Homo sapiens: one gene and its partners. Changing the gene in region 1 together with any one later gene gives a genetic interaction. Each region holds a gene or a part of one and is shown in the gene's direction. Other genes may lie near its edges. The genes, in order: HRK, BAD and BAK1.

Region 1 (3,703 bases):
GCCTGGGCGACAGAATGAGTGAGACTCTGTTACAAAAAAATAAAAAATAAAAAAAGAAACTATGCAACATAGTCACTATTGTTTCCCAAATTCAGGTTCTTCCACTTATACAACTGCTAATTATTGAGTACCTTCTGTGTATAGGGCACTGTGGATACAGGAAGGACCAAGACATAAGAGTTCCCTGCTTTCATGGAGCCCACATTTTAGTGGGAAGAGACAGACAATAAGTAAATATTGTTCTTGTTACTACTTCTGTGTAACAAATTACTCCAAAACTACTAAGTTTTGCTTCAAACAACTAGAGCCATCCCTCTGTCTCTGGGCGGGAGTGGTTCCAGGATCCCACTTTGGATCCCAAAATCCAAGGATGCCAAGTCCTTGATATAAAATGGTGTAGTGTTTGCATATAACCCACACACTGTAGGCTTTAAATCATCTTTAGATTACTTATAATACCCAATACAATGTAAGTGCTATGTAACTAATTATACTGTATTGTTTTTATGTGTGTTTTTTATACTTGTGTTATTTTTAAATTTTTTTTTCCAATAGTTTTGATCTGAGGTTGGTTGAATCCATGGATGTGGAACTCACCTATATGGAAGGCTGACATATTTGACCATGCTCACACATTCTGTGGGTTAGGAATTTGGTCAGGGCATAGTGGGGGTGACTTGTCTCTGCTCCAGGATGGCTGGGGACTGGAGTCATGGGTGGGGAGGCAACCTTATTTACATGTCTGGCTGTTAATACTGGGAGTCAGCTGGGGCTGTCAATTGGAGCAGCTATACTCAGCCTCTTCGTGTGGCTTGGGCTTCCTCACAGCATGGCAGCCGGATTCTGACACAGTGACTGAGAGCTCCAAAAGCAAGTACCCCAGGGAACTAGGTGGAAGCTGCTTTGCTTTTTCTGTCCCAGCTTCCAAAGTCACTTGGGTCAGAAGCAAGTCACAAGCTGATACAGATTCAAGGTGGGGCGGAATTAGACTCCACCTCATGGGGGAGTGGTGAGGTTCTAGAATAGCATGTGGAATGGGAGATATTTTAGTGGCCACCTTTGGATTATGCAATCTAACACAGAGATAATTTTAGAAACTCCTCAGGGCTTTGAAGGTAATACACAAAGGTAACACAATAGAGAGTGCCCCAGGGACTCCTCACCTGTGGTGATGAGGGAAGGCAGGACACTTTGAAGAGGAACCAGGGGAATAGTGGACTTGAATGACAGAAAGGAGCCAGCTATATGAAGACATGCGAGAAAGGTGTTTTGGGAAGAGAGAGAGCTAAGTCCAGTGGCCCGGAGGTAAGACTGCATAGTACGTTTCAGGAAAGAAAAACAAGCAGTGTAGCTTGGTGCCAGGGCTGGGTGCCCAGATGCAGGGATGCAGAGATGAATGAGTCCCAGCCACAGCCCTCAGGTGACCCCAGACTCTTTCAGAGACAGGAGACCCAGGCTTTGCCCCTGCCCTCACCTCTTAGTAGAAATAAACCAGTTCACCTCCTGCCAAGGTCTGAGAGGTCCTGATCCCTGAACCAACTCACTCATGCCCACTCCCCTCAGTGCCAGGGGAACATTGTGGACATCGATTGGGTTTCCATCACCCTTAGAACTCTCACCATTCAACTCAGCACTGGCTCCCCTCTCCTTTCCTGCTCTAAACTGGTGCCCCTGCTGTTGGGTGGGGGATTTCTGATTTAGCCCACATCAATAAGTTGCATCCTTTTACGACTTCTGGTTGGCCAGGCAAGGAGAAAGCTCCTTCCTTTTCCTGTGGGGAGGCAACTGGCTTATCCAAGATGGCTGCTTTCCACAGAGCTTTCCCACACTGAACCTTTGCTCCATGGGCCAGAGACTTGGGCAGGGTGGAATTTAATTGCTCTGGGAAACTTGATATAATATTACTTTTTTAAAAAGTAGCTGGATGTGGTGGCTCATGCCTGTAATCCCAGCACTTGGGGAGGCTGAGGTGGGAAGATTGCTTGAGCCCTGGAACTTGAGACTAACCTGGGCAATATAGTGAGACCCCATCTCTACAAAAAATAAGAAATTAGTGAGGTATGGTGGTCTGCACCTGTGTTACCAACTACTCGGGAGGCTGAGTGAGGTAGGAGGATTGCTTGAGCCCAGGAGACTGAGGCTATAGTGAGCTATAATCGTACCACTGTACTACAGGCTGGGCAAGAGAATGAGACCCTGTCTCAGAAAAATAAATAACTTTTTCTTGATGACAAAAAATATGACAAGTTCATTGGCAACTATTTGGAAAATGCTGAATAAAAGAAAATTGTAGTCAGGCGTGGTGGCATGTGCCTGTAATCCCAGCTACTGGGGAGGCTGAGGCAGGATGATTGCTTGAGCCAGGACTTTGTGGCTGCAGTGAGCTATGATTGTGCCACTGCACTCTGTCCTGGGTGACATAATGAGACTCTGTCTCAAAACAAAACAAAACAAAACAAAACAAAAAAATGAAAAAGAAAATTGTAGTCTTGCCTCTGGAGAAAGGAGGTTCAGCTTTGAGCAGAAGGTCTGAGTAGCAGAAGATTGCAGTCCTTTCCCATGTAAAGACCAGACAGATTCTAAGCCTTTCTACCTTTCCATTGCATTAGATTTGACCCTTTAGTGATGTGATTTTCTTTCCTTCTTTCTGCCATTTCTCTTTCCTTTCTTTCTTCCTTTCTCTTTTTCTCTCTTTCTTTCCCTCCCTCCCTCCCTGCCTGCCTCCCTCCCTCCCTCTCTTCCTTCCTTCCTTCCGTCCCTCCTTCTTCCTGTCTCTCTCTGTTTCTGTCTCTGTCTCTCTCTCTCTTTGTTTTTTTGAGACGGGGTCTTACTCTGTCACCCAGGCTGGAGTGCAGTAGCAGGATCGTAGCTCACTGCAGCCTTAACCTCCTGGGCTCAAGCGACTCTCCCACCTCAGCCTTCTGAGTAGCTGAGACTACAGGTGCACGCCACCACACCTGGCTAATTTTTGTATTTTTTGTAGAGACAGGGTTTTGCTATGTTGCCCAGGCTGGTCTTGAACTCCTGAGCTCAAGACCTCCTGCCTTGGTTTTCCAAAGTGTTGGGATTATAGGTGTGCACCACCATTCCTGGCTGGATAGGTACTTTAAGACTTGGAATCACTATAAATATATTATCTGTAACCTGACCTTTTCCATATATCACAGGCATTTGTTCAACAGCTTAATATTTTTCTATGAGACACTTCTTTTTGTTTGTTTGTTTTGAGATGAAGTCTCACACTGTCGCCTGAGCTGGAGTGCAATGGCGCAATCTCTCTGCAACCTCCACCTCCCAGGTTCAAGAGATTCTCCTGCCTTAGCCTCCCGAGTAGCTGGGATTACAGGTGCCTGCCACCACACCTGGCTTAATTTTTGTATTTTTAGTAGAGACAGAGTTTCACTACATTGGCCATCCTGGTCTCGAACTCCTGACCTTGTGATCCACCTGCCTTGGCCTCCCAAAGTGCTGGGATTACAGGCGTGAGCCACCATGCTTAGAAGTTGGTTGGTATTGCTTTATTTGGTTAGTCCATCATTTACATTCCCCATCCATCATTGTGAAGTCACTTGAGCCCAGGAGTTCGAAGTTGTAGTGAGCTACAATTACACCACTGTACTCCAACCTGGGCAGACAACAGAGTGAGACCCCCATCTCAAAGAAAAAAAAAAAAGAACTAATTAAAACAAATTTTTTTAATGCT
Region 2 (2,871 bases), on another chromosome or scaffold:
CATTATTGGCACTCGGTAAGGATTCGTGGGATTAATGAGAAGTTAACCTAAATCTTCACCAAAGGCCCCTGAGCTTCCCCTCGATTCACATACAAGGGACTGGGGCTCTGAGAGGTGGGCTGTGATGCGCCCCTGGAAGACCCACGAGTGGGCCTGCAGAGCTGATGGGGAGGGTTCAGGCAGGGCCAGGGGCTTAGAGGAGCTGAGATTAACGTCGCCCCCCTACCCACTGACCCTCTGCAGGCGCTGGGGCTGTGGAGATCCGGAGTCGCCACAGCTCCTACCCCGCGGGGACGGAGGACGACGAAGGGATGGGGGAGGAGCCCAGCCCCTTTCGGGGCCGCTCGCGCTCGGCGCCCCCCAACCTCTGGGCAGCACAGCGCTATGGCCGCGAGCTCCGGAGGATGAGTGACGAGTTTGTGGACTCCTTTAAGGTGAGCGCCAGTCCCCAGCGTGCCAGGACCTGAAGTACCAGGCCGCCCCCCGCCGGTCTGTCCCTGCCTTGTCCCAAGGCACGCCCGGATCTGGAGTCCCACGACCCCTCCCCAAAGCCGTCCTGTTCCTTCCTAGCTCCAGAGCATTCTGGGATTTGTAGTCACAAGACTTCCCCGCCCCCACTCCCCAGCTCTTCCCCCGCCTGGTGTGTGTGTGTGTGTGTGTGTGTGAGTCACAGGGCATGCTGGGATCTGTAGTCTAGATCCCACTCCAGGCGTGTGTGTGTGTGTGTGTGTGTGTGTGTGTGTGTGTGTGAGAGTCACAGGGCATGCTGGGATCTGTAGTCTAGATCCCACTCCAGGCGTGTGTGTGTGTGTGTGTGTGTGTGTGTGTGTGTGTGTGTGAGTCACAGGGCATGCTGGGATCTGTAGTCTAGATCCCACTCCAGGTGTGTGTGTGTGTGTGTGTGTGTGTGAGAGAGTCACAGGGCATGCTGGGATCTGTAGTCTAGATCCCACTCCAGGTGTGTGTGTGTGTGTGTGTGTGTGTGTCAGTCACAGGGCATGCTGGGATCTGTAGTCTAGATCCCACTCCAGGCGTGTGTGTGTGTGTGTGTGTGTGTGTGTGTGTGTGTGTCACAGGGCATGCTGGGATCTGTAGTCTAGATCCCACTCCAGGCGTGTGTGTGTGTGTGTGTGTGTGTGTGTGTGTCTCACAGGGCATGCTGGGATCTGTAGTCTAGATCCCACTCCAGGCCAAAGCTCCTGGGTTCCCCGAATTCTTGGAAGACCAGGCATGCTGGTATTTGTGCTCCTTGCTGGCACCTGTGCGCTCTGTCGCCCAGGCTGGAGTGCAGTGGTGCGATCACGGCTCACTGCAGCCTGGAACTCCTGGCCTCAAAGGATCCTCCCGCTTCAACCTCCCAAAGTGCTGGGATTACAGGCGCTCACCATCGCTCCCGGCCCTTTGATTCTCGAATTGCGGTCTCATCTTCTGGGTGCTAGGTCTCCAGCTCTGGCCTTTCCATTTAGGGCCCTAGGCATCCTCTCTTCCCGTCTCCGGCACGGAGTTCCTGGGATCTAACCAGTTCCCATTCCTGGGGGCCCATGCGTCCTCGCGAGCGTCCCTGACCGCCCGGCGTGGAGCCTCCTGGGAGTTGTGGCCTTCATTATCTCCCCCCCGATCTCACTTAGAGGAAGGCTCACGGAAGTGGAGAGCCTGGCTCGAGCTGCCATGGTAATCTAACTCATGTAACCCTTTTCTCCCTCCACCAGAAGGGACTTCCTCGCCCGAAGAGCGCGGGCACAGCAACGCAGATGCGGCAAAGCTCCAGCTGGACGCGAGTCTTCCAGTCCTGGTGGGATCGGAACTTGGGCAGGGGAAGCTCCGCCCCCTCCCAGTGACCTTCGCTCCACATCCCGAAACTCCACCCGTTCCCACTGCCCTGGGCAGCCATCTTGAATATGGGCGGAAGTACTTCCCTCAGGCCTATGCAAAAAGAGGATCCGTGCTGTCTCCTTTGGAGGGAGGGCTGACCCAGATTCCCTTCCGGTGCGTGTGAAGCCACGGAAGGCTTGGTCCCATCGGAAGTTTTGGGTTTTCCGCCCACAGCCGCCGGAAGTGGCTCCGTGGCCCCGCCCTCAGGCTCCGGGCTTTCCCCCAGGCGCCTGCGCTAAGTCGCGAGCCAGGTTTAACCGTTGCGTCACCGGGACCCGAGCCCCCGCGATGCCCTGGGGGCCGTGCTCACTACCAAATGTTAATAAAGCCCGCGTCTGTGCCGCCGAGGCTTTTCTGTGCGTCGACTGGGGCTCCGGCAGGCCGGGGTAGTGCTCTCACGGATACTTTCAAAAGAGGCCGCTGTCTTACGAGGGAAACTTAGGCTCTGCCTGACATCCAGCGACAGAGACGGAAGGGGTCGCGGCGGCTCGCGGGCCTGGGCTGCGCGGCCCAGGTCCAAGTCCCCAGCACGCGCATTGGGACCGCAGCGCTGCCGGCAGCCCGATCCCGCGCTCTGCAAACCGTGCCGCGGCCCCCCAGAGAGGGTCACTCGCTCCTATTTGGGTCAGCCCTTTCCAGCAGCTACTGTGTGGCCGGCCCGGGGCCAGCGCCGCCCGGGTACCTCGCGGGGCGGGAGGGAGCGGCTGAGCCAGGCTGGCAGCAGCGCGGTCGCTGGAAACTGAGGCTTCATGCGGGGACCCGGACAGAGCGGGGGCTCCGTTCCAGAAAGATTTATTGGCGCCCCCTATAACCCGGGCCGGTTCTTGGTGCCGGGCACAGAGATGCATTGCGCCACGGCCCTGCTCGCGGAAGCTCCCGAGGGCCCGGAATCGGCAGGGCAGTCAGAGAGGGCTTCAGGGAGGAGGCAGCTAGAGCTGCGACCGGAAGGTGAGGTGAGGGTCATCCCCCCCGGCGCAAGGAGGAGTGGACCCATGGAAG
Region 3 (2,668 bases), on another chromosome or scaffold:
AGAGGGCTGGGTCACGGGCGAGGGAGGCAGGAATTAGAGTGGGGCCTGGCTGCTGTATCCCTCCAGCGGGAGAAATAAGGAAGTAAGCTGGCCAATCACCCAGTCAGGTCTGCTCAACAGGGAACGCAATTATTGTGACTTGGGGAGGAAGTAAGATGGCTGCCCTCCTTCCCTCTTCCCAGGGGATAGCCAGGGAAGCCCCAGCTCACACCTCACGGCGGGCTGTTCCCTGGACTTGGGAATCAGGTCCCAGGTCTGTCACTATCTCCCTGTGTGACTTTTCTGGGCCGCAGCTACAAATTCAGATTTTGTTTCCCACATTTCCCTGCACGCAAAGGGCTGCGGAGCTGAGATGTACTAATGTAGACTCAGGACCCCAAATGCCCGGGACTGTCCCGGTTCCCCGGCTTGTTCTGGCTGTATGACCTTGCACACGTTACTCAGACACCCTGTGCCATTTTCCCCCTGCCAGCTGGGGATTGCCTGCTCCCAGGGCTACTGTGAGGACTCAATGCAAGTGCCGGAACAACTCTCCACACAGCATAAGCTCTAGGGGCGGCTAAGGTGCTGAAGTAGGGATATTTCTTTTCTTTTTTTTTTTTTTGTTTTTTTTGTTGTTGTTGTTTTGTTTTGTTTTGTTTTTTGAGATGGAGTCTCGCTCTATTGCCCAGGCTGGAGTGCAGTGGCGTGATCTAGGCTCACTGCAAGCTCCAACTCCCGGGTTCACGCCATTCTCCTGCCTCAGCCTCCCGAGTAGCTGGGACTACAGGCGCCTCCCACCACGCCTGGCTAATTTTTTGTATTTTGTTTAGTAGAGACGGGGTTTCACCATGTTAGCCAGGATGGTCTCAATCTCCTGACCTCGTGATCCGCCCGCCTTGGCCTCCCAAAGTGCTGGGATTACAGGCATGAGCCACCACACCCGGCCATTTTTTTTTTTTTTTTGAGACAGAGTTTCGCTCTTGTTGCCTAGGCTGGAGTGCAGTGGCACGATCTCCGCTCACCGCAACCTCCGCCTCCCGGGGTCAAGTAATTCTCCTGCCTCAGCCTCTTCTTGAGTAGGTGGGATTACAGGCATGTGCCACCACACCCGGCTAATTTTGTATTTTTAGTAGAGACAGAGTTTCTCCATGTTGGTCAGGCTGGTCTTGAACTCCCGACCTCAGGTGATCTGCCCACCTCGGCCTCCCAAAGTGCTGGGATTATAGGCGTGAGCCACCGCACCTGGTTGGGATATTTCTTTCCATGGGTGAGGACAGCTATGGCCTTAGGAAGAGTGAATCCCCTATAAGGCATGGGGCTGCCAGGGTTCGGCCCTCTCTCCCTGACTCCCAGCTTTGATCCTCAGAGGAGCAGGTAGCCCAGGACACAGAGGAGGTTTTCCGCAGCTACGTTTTTTACCGCCATCAGCAGGAACAGGAGGCTGAAGGGGTGGCTGCCCCTGCCGACCCAGAGATGGTCACCTTACCTCTGCAACCTAGCAGGTGAGCTACAACCGCTGGGCCCACAAGGACATCTTCAGGGAGGCAGTAGCTCGCATGGGTCTCTGTGCAGGTCCTGGGAGCTGGGGAGGCCTCGGGGGTCTTGCCCTTCTCTCATGGTTGCTCCTCTTTTATGTTGGGCTCCCACCCCCATCCAGGACCTTGTATCCTTTTTAGCCCATGCCTGCCCCTTCTCCTGGAGCCCAGCACTCATGTCTTAGAACACTGTCAGGGACCTCCAAGAAGGGATGCACAGGGCCATGGACAGCTCAGGCAGAACCCCTCTGCCATGAGCCAGGGCCTGGTCCCGACTGCCTGGTTACTGGCTCACCTGCATGCCTCCTGCTCCTACAGCACCATGGGGCAGGTGGGACGGCAGCTCGCCATCATCGGGGACGACATCAACCGACGCTATGACTCAGAGTTCCAGACCATGTTGCAGCACCTGCAGCCCACGGCAGAGAATGCCTATGAGTACTTCACCAAGATTGCCACCAGGTACCCCAGCCACCTCCCTGCCAGCTCCAGTCACTCCTCTGTCATGTCACAACCATACCATACCCTGCCTGCATGATGCTCTCCTGGCATGGGGAGAAGCCTTCTGTCAGTGTCCAATGTCTGCTGTGAACTCACATGTGGTCTCGGCCCCCTATTTTTCTCTTTCGGGGTCCCAGACTTGTATTTTGGGCATTAGCTCACAGCTCTTTTGAGCTCTGACTCCAAGGTCTTGACTGGTTAGATCAGGACTCTAGAGGGGGCCTGAGGTGGGGACGTCCCCCACAGCTCCCCAGCCCAGCTGGGACATAGCTGTCCTTCATAGTTCCAATTTGAAACCACATATCACACTGAAGATGGTGAGGGTGCTAACCTCTGCCAGGTCCTAGAAATGGCTCCTACTTGCTATAATCTGGCATCCAAGTGGTTAAAGACACCGAATATTTGGGTGCAAATCCAAGCTTTGCCACTTACTGCCTTCGTGAAGCTTCCTAGCCCTTAGTCTCCTGGTTTGTAAAATAGGGAAAATATGCTTAGATTAGTGTCCACCTTACAAAGTGTTAGCCATTGCTACCACCAGAGTTAGGGAAGTCAGTGTCGGAGTAGATTTGAAACTGGAGGTGAAGGTAGGAGTAAGTGATAGATTTTAGAATTAGTGCTCAGAGCTGAAATATCCAGTCCGTGAACTTAGA

What was found.
Region 2: changes in HRK (region 1) and BAD together harm fitness more than expected from each alone (negative genetic interaction), as found in Homo sapiens cells (one large-scale study listed by BioGRID).
Region 3: changes in HRK (region 1) and BAK1 together harm fitness more than expected from each alone (negative genetic interaction), as found in Homo sapiens cells (one large-scale study listed by BioGRID).

The regions. Positions count from the first base shown.
Region 1 is NC_000012.12:116,871,888-116,875,590, reverse strand, and holds part of HRK (activator of apoptosis harakiri), read left to right. Parts: intron 1-3,703. UniProt on the Homo sapiens protein: Promotes apoptosis.
Region 2 is NC_000011.10:64,269,176-64,272,046, reverse strand, and holds the end of BAD (bcl2-associated agonist of cell death), read left to right. Parts: intron 1-243; coding exon 244-434; intron 435-1,385; coding exon of another isoform or gene 1,386-1,388; exon of another isoform or gene 1,389-1,516; intron 1,517-1,709; coding exon 1,710-1,838; 3' UTR 1,839-2,217; downstream 2,218-2,871. Other genes in the region: integral membrane protein GPR137, read right to left, coding at 1,386-1,388. UniProt on the Homo sapiens protein: Promotes cell death. Successfully competes for the binding to Bcl-X(L), Bcl-2 and Bcl-W, thereby affecting the level of heterodimerization of these proteins with BAX. Can reverse the death repressor activity of Bcl-X(L), but not that of Bcl-2.
Region 3 is NC_000006.12:33,574,609-33,577,276, reverse strand, and holds part of BAK1 (bcl-2 homologous antagonist/killer), read left to right. Parts: intron 1-1,348; coding exon 1,349-1,484; intron 1,485-1,835; coding exon 1,836-1,979; intron 1,980-2,668. UniProt on the Homo sapiens protein: Plays a role in the mitochondrial apoptotic process. Upon arrival of cell death signals, promotes mitochondrial outer membrane (MOM) permeabilization by oligomerizing to form pores within the MOM.